2 separate regions of the Homo sapiens genome follow, and region 2 is linked to region 1. Evidence: fine-mapped expression QTL. A gene starts in region 1. The other region holds a variant in brackets. All regions are shown on one strand. Distances are from middle to middle.

The links. PIP is the estimated chance that this variant, and not a neighbour inherited with it, causes the effect. A credible set is the group of variants that fine-mapping cannot tell apart.
Region 2: its variant is the best candidate, but not a certain one, in a credible set for the expression of DMAC2 in putamen (GTEx, PIP 0.52).

The regions. Positions count from the first base shown.
Region 1 is chr19:41,438,664-41,441,567 of GRCh38, forward strand. It overlaps DMAC2 (distal membrane arm assembly component 2), which reads right to left and starts at 1,249. Exons shown (of 6, transcript NM_018035.3): 1 at 1,219-1,249. The coding sequence starts at 1,236. RefSeq lists an enhancer at 984-1,153.
Region 2 is chr19:41,407,164-41,410,067 of GRCh38, forward strand. All of the region lies in intron 1 of BCKDHA (branched chain keto acid dehydrogenase E1 subunit alpha), which reads left to right. Among named protein-coding and RNA genes, the nearest start is that of BCKDHA, 11 kb to the left of the region's middle. RefSeq lists enhancers at 1-362, 363-1,318, 2,628-2,677. The variant T/C (reference allele first, on the strand shown) is at 1,408.

The sequences.
Region 1 (2,904 bases):
CCTCTAACTTTCCCCCAAACCCTTATCACTCAAAACCTGCATTATTTGACCTCTTAATTTTCCACAGATTTGCCCCTTAATTACCCAATTCTTCTGCTGGGGTCTTCCCAAATGACTTCTTTCTTTCCCCAGAATATAATCTTAAAAACTTATCTCCAAACCTCAAGGAGAGGGTGCTCTGAGCAATCCCTAAAACCAACCAAGCTTGTCCAACCCGCCGCCTGCATGCAGCCCAACACAAACATGCAAACTTTCTTAAAACATTAGGAGGATATTTTTGTGATTTTTTTTTTTTTTTTTTTGGCTCATCAGTTATGGTTAGTGTATTTTATGTGTGGCCCAAGACAATTCTTCTTCTTCGAACAGCGTGGCCCAGGGAAGCCAAAAGATTGGACACCCCTGAACCGAGAAGGGTATAAAAAGCATGAGCTTTGAAGAGGAGAGTAAGAAAGTCGAGGGGTGTGGCCAATGGGAAGAAGCCCCCAAACTCTTCAATTTTGCTTTCAAGGTCTCCTCTTAATCTACCCCAATTTCTCTTTGCTTTAACCAAATTCTTTTTTTTTTTCAAATTATCTCGATAATTTTACCCAAACCCTTATTTTCCTCAAAAGTTTAAAGCTGCCAACCTCTTTAATTTTCCCTAAATTCATTCCTTGATTTTAAATCCTCTGAAAGAATATCTCAAATTCTCCTCTTAATTTCACCCAGATCATGCCCTTAGAACCTCCAAATTGACCTCTTGGTTCCCCCACCCATCATGCTTTTGAGTTTTCTGTAAAAATTCGTCAATCTCCCACTAACTTTCCTTACATTCATCCTTCGGTCTTCTAAGACCAAATCCCACATCCTCGAACAATCCCTTCCAAGCTCTCTTATCCTACAGGCCCCACCCTTGCCTGTCCATTAGCTCCTTGTGTCATCCCTCCCTCTGATTGGTTAGTCGCGTCGCTCTTCGGCAGCCACTCCCTCATCCCCATTGGATACTCTCAGCCAAGTCCCTGCCTCCTCTCGCTCGCTAAAGCGTCTCCTCCGCCTGCGACCCTCACAGATCCTTCCTGGCCCCCACTAGCCACAGGTTTGCACTCCCAGTACGGGGCTTGCCAGGCTTAGCCTGCTGCCTCACGGCTTTCTGCTCTCGTGGCCGCCAACAGAGGCCCTGAATGCGGAGGCTGTAGAGCGGACTTCAAATTTGGGGCTCTAGGAACTCCGGTCACTTACCGCCCAGGGAGCCGCCATCTTGCTAAGGTTTCGTAACCGGAAGGGGCCGGTCTTATCCCACGCTCCTGGTTCAGCGCGAACTTATTCTCCTGTGGCCACGCCCCGCGTTTTCTAACCGTCCTCTTAAAGGTGCACGCACTTTTTACTCTTAAAGGGTTTAGGGATTGCTCACAGCGCCCTCTCCCTGAGCTTCAAAACGAGACACAGGTCGGGCTCACGCACCTGTGAACCCAGCACTTTGTGGAGGCCGAGGCGAAAGCATCGCTTGAAGCCAGGAGTTCGAGACCAGCCTGGGCAACATAGGGGAGCCTTTATCTCCACAAAGAAATAGGGCAACCTTATATCCACAAAAAATAAAATGTTAGCCGGGCGTGGTGGTGCACGCCTGTGGTCCCAGCTACTCACGAGGCTGAGGCGGGGGGATCACTTGAGCCGGGGAGGTCGAAGTTGCAGTGAGCTGTGATTGCGCCACTGCACTCCAGCCTGGGTGACAGAGCGAGACGCTGTCTCTTAAAACAAAAAATTGAAAAACAAAACAAACCCCAGGACTCCACAATCTTTCCCTAGGAGAAGATGGGGTGTTCTTCCCGGCAGAGTACCTTTCTTTCCTGACTGCAATTGCAGTCTCCCCAAGCTTTCTTATTCTTCCAGCTTCCACTCACTACCTCCTAAAAACAGGGAATGAGGGGGCTGAAAAGCTGACCACGTCATTTTTAAAAATTAGGGTCAGGTAAGAGAGTGGGTGAAGAGGTTAGATGTCAAGGTTAGAGACTGAGGTGAGATCTCAAGACCAGTTTGGAGTTGAAAGCTAGATCGCAGCATGAAGAGCCATTGTGAAGTCTTGTGGATAGAATTATTCATTCATTAGTTCCAAGAATATTTACTGAGCACCTACCACGTGATGGCAGGCACTGTTCTAGATGCCGAGGTTACCATGGTGAGCAGGACAGACCCAGTCCCTCTCTCAGGAAGTCAACATTCTGGGCTGGGAGAGGATGGATGTGGGAGAGGATGAATAAGAAACAAAGGAATCAGCAAGGCAATTTTGATGAGAAGCAGATAAAAAAAAGTGACTGGGTGTAGGGCCATCAGCAAAGGCCTCTCTGAAGAGGTGACATTGAAGTAGAAGTGAATGATAAGGAAAGAGCCATTCAAAGATCTAGGGGAAAAGCGCTGCAGGGAGAGGTAGCCTCTAGAGCAGAGAGGCCTTGAGGTGGGAACCAGCTTGCAGACAGAGATAGGAGACTGGGTTGAGAGGTGGGCAGGGGCTGACGGTGCAGGCCTGGTAGGGTTTTATTCTATTCACAGTGGGAAGAAGGGAGTGTCAAAATCGGATTTACATTTTGTAAAGATTATTTCTGCCAGGTGGAGAATGTACCTTAGAGCAGCGGTCCCTAACCGTTTTGTTACCAGGGACTGGTTTCGTGGAGGACAATTTTTCCATAGACTGGGGGTCGGGGGTGGGGTGGGGATGGTTTTGGGATGAAACTGTTCCACCTGAGATCATCAGGCATTAGATTCTCATAAGGAGCAGGCAACCTAGATCCCCCGCACGCACAGTTCACAATAGGGTTTGCCTCCTATGAGAATCTAATGCCACTGCTGATGTGACAGGAGGCGGAGCTCAGGCGGTAATGCTCACTTACCCGCTGCTCATCTCTTGCTGTGCGGCCCAGTTCCTAGCAG
Region 2 (2,904 bases), 32 kb before region 1:
AGTTTTGAGTATGTAATACGTCCCAGATCGGTGCTGAACCCCTGGTGTGAGTTAACTTAGCAACTTTTCACGTGGTGTTCTGCAGCCTTCTTACAGATAAGGAAATTCAGAGAGGTGAAGTGTTTTTGCAGAGAGCCACACAATGAGCTAAGAAATTAGAACCCAGGGCAGTTGAACTCCAGAGCCAGGGAACTTAACAGCCCATTCATGCATTCACTCAGGAATTCCCTCTTGAGTGCCTGCTGTGAAGGCAACCTGGACGCTGTCTCTGCCTTCCTGGGATTGTGGTGTGTGTGGGAGACAGACACGAAACAAAGCAATCTTCTAGGTCAGTGTCTGGCTATGCTGGGTACTCAGAAGGGGGAAGCACTGTGCTGCAAGAGGCCGGCTGTTTCCTCCTCACAAGGGGAGGCCTGCAGTGACATTGCCAGGCCTGAATCTGCCCTGCCATTGGGAGTGTAATTTCCTCACGACTACAAATGCAAATAAATACACACACTGAACATGCTACCCCGCTAGAACTGTGGACAGCTTGTTCACTGCAGTTAAAGGAAGACGGAGGGACACATTTGAGCACGCATGTGTGAGATCCAGCTTGTGGCAAACCCTGCCATTCTTTAACATCTGTGGGAAGTGAAGCCACCATTACTGACCTCGGAGGAATCCCGGGAGTAGTGGGAAGAAAAGTTGCAGATGTTTGAAAATCAGGCTGCAGGGGCAGTTGGGGTGAGGAGCATGGATGTCTAGGAGCCTGAATCTCAGCGTTGGAAGCCCAGTTCTGATGTAATTTTTTTTTTTTTTTTTTTTTTTGAGACAGGGTCTCACTTTGTCCCCCAGGCTGGAGTGCAGTGGCACAGTCTCAGCTCACTACAGCCTCATCCTTCCAGGTTCAAGCAGTCCTCCTGCCTCAGCCTCCCAAGTAGCTGGGACCACAGGCATGTGTCACCATGCCTTTCTAATGTTTGTATTTTTTTGTGGAGACAGGGTTTCTCACTGTTGCCCAGGCTGGTCTCAAACTCCTGAGCTCATGTGATCCTCCTGCCTTGGCCTTCCAAAGTGCTAGGATTACAGGCGTAAGCCACTGCCCAGCATCCCCACCTTTTTTTTTTTTTTTTTAAATTTGTGGTTTGGTGCAGGTTATTTTACCTCCCCAGGCCTCGGTTTCCTCATCTACTCAAGGGCAATGGCAGATAATCAACCTCACAAATTCCCCGAGGAGTTAGTAGGCTTGTGCCTGCCAGGCTCAGCTGGCTTACAGCAGGTGCTTCATAAGGGGGAGCTATTGCAACGCCTCGGCTGGTTCTAGGCTGCCTAGCTCCAGAGCTAAGAGTCCCAGTGGGTTCATATCCCTTTGAGCATTTATAGGCTTCTCACAGGTCTCCTGGGCTTTCTCAGCCATTCCTCATC[T/C]GACCTGAGGAGGTGTGATGTCCTTGCAGGACTCCTCCAGCCCCTCTGAGCTTTTTTTTTTGTTTGAGACAGCATGTTGCTCTGTTGCCCAGGCTGGAGTGCAGTGGTGTGATCATGGCTTACTGCAGCCTCCACCTCCTGGGGTCAAGCGATTCTCCCACCTCAGCCTTCCAAGTAGCTGGGACTATAGGTGTATGTTACCATGCTTGAGTAATTTTTAAAATTTTTTGTAGAGATGTGATCTCAGGCTGGTCTTGAACTCCTGGGCTCACCTGGGCTCAAGTAATCCTTGAGCCCAAAGTGTTGGGATTACAGATATGAGCCACCTTGCCAGGCCCTGAGCTCCTTCTGTCTTCCATGAAGGACACACTATTCCTTGCCTTTTGTCTTTTTTTGTGTGTGTGGCAGGGTCTCTGTTGCCCAGGCTGGGATGTGTTGGTGCAATCTGGGCTTATTGCAACCTCCGCTTCCCGGATTCAAGTGATTCTCCTGCCTCAGCCTCTTGAGTAGCTGGGATTACAGGTGTGCGCAACCACGCCCAGCTAATTTTTGTATTTTTGGTAGACATGGGGTTTCACCATGTTGGCCAGGCTGGTCTCAGCCTCCCGAAGTGTTGGGATTACAGGCATAAGCCACTGTGCCTGGCCACTTTTTGTCTTTTGCATGTTCTATACACCTTGCCGAGAATGTGCTTTCCCTGCCTCCTGGTTATCCCTCAGGTTTCAGCTCTAACATCACTTCCCCAGGGAAGCCTTACCCTCGCTTTCTTCTGCTATAGGATAATATGAACCACCATCATTGTTACTTGTTTAGTGTCTGCCCTCCCTGCTAGGCAGCAAGGACAGATATCTTGCCTGTCTTAGGTCCCCAGAACCCAGCACAGGGCTTGGAACATGTCAGGTGCTCAAATATTTGTTGAATGAGTCAGTCTGGGCTCGCAGAGGGAGCTGGGACCAGAGTAGAGTGGACACTGAAGCGTATGTAGCAGTTTGCCAGGCGATAGGGAAAGAGACCTTCTTGTAAAGCAAGCAGAGATGAGAGGGAGAAATGAGAATTGCTAAGATTGTTTTGAGCATTTGTTAGGTGGCTTACAGATGCTTTGCTGAACATTTTATTCATGTGATCTTGTTTAAGCCTCTCATTTCCATGAGGGGTTCTCCATTTTTATAGACAAGGAAGGGGACACGTGGAGAGGGGAAGTTACTTTGCCATATCACCCTCTAAGGGATTTTTTTTTTTTTTTTTTTTTTTGAGATGGAGTCTCACTGTCACCAGGCTAGAGTGCTATGGCGCAATCTCGGCTCACTGCAACCCCCACCTCCCGGGTTCAAGTGATTCTCTTGCCTCAGCCTCCTGAGTAGCTGGGACTACAGGCATGTGCCACCACATCCGGCTAATTTTTCTATTTTTAGTGGGTACAGGGTTTCGCCATGTTGGCCACATTGATCTCGAACTCCTGACCTCAAGTGAGATTCGCCTGCCTCTGCCTCCTAAAGG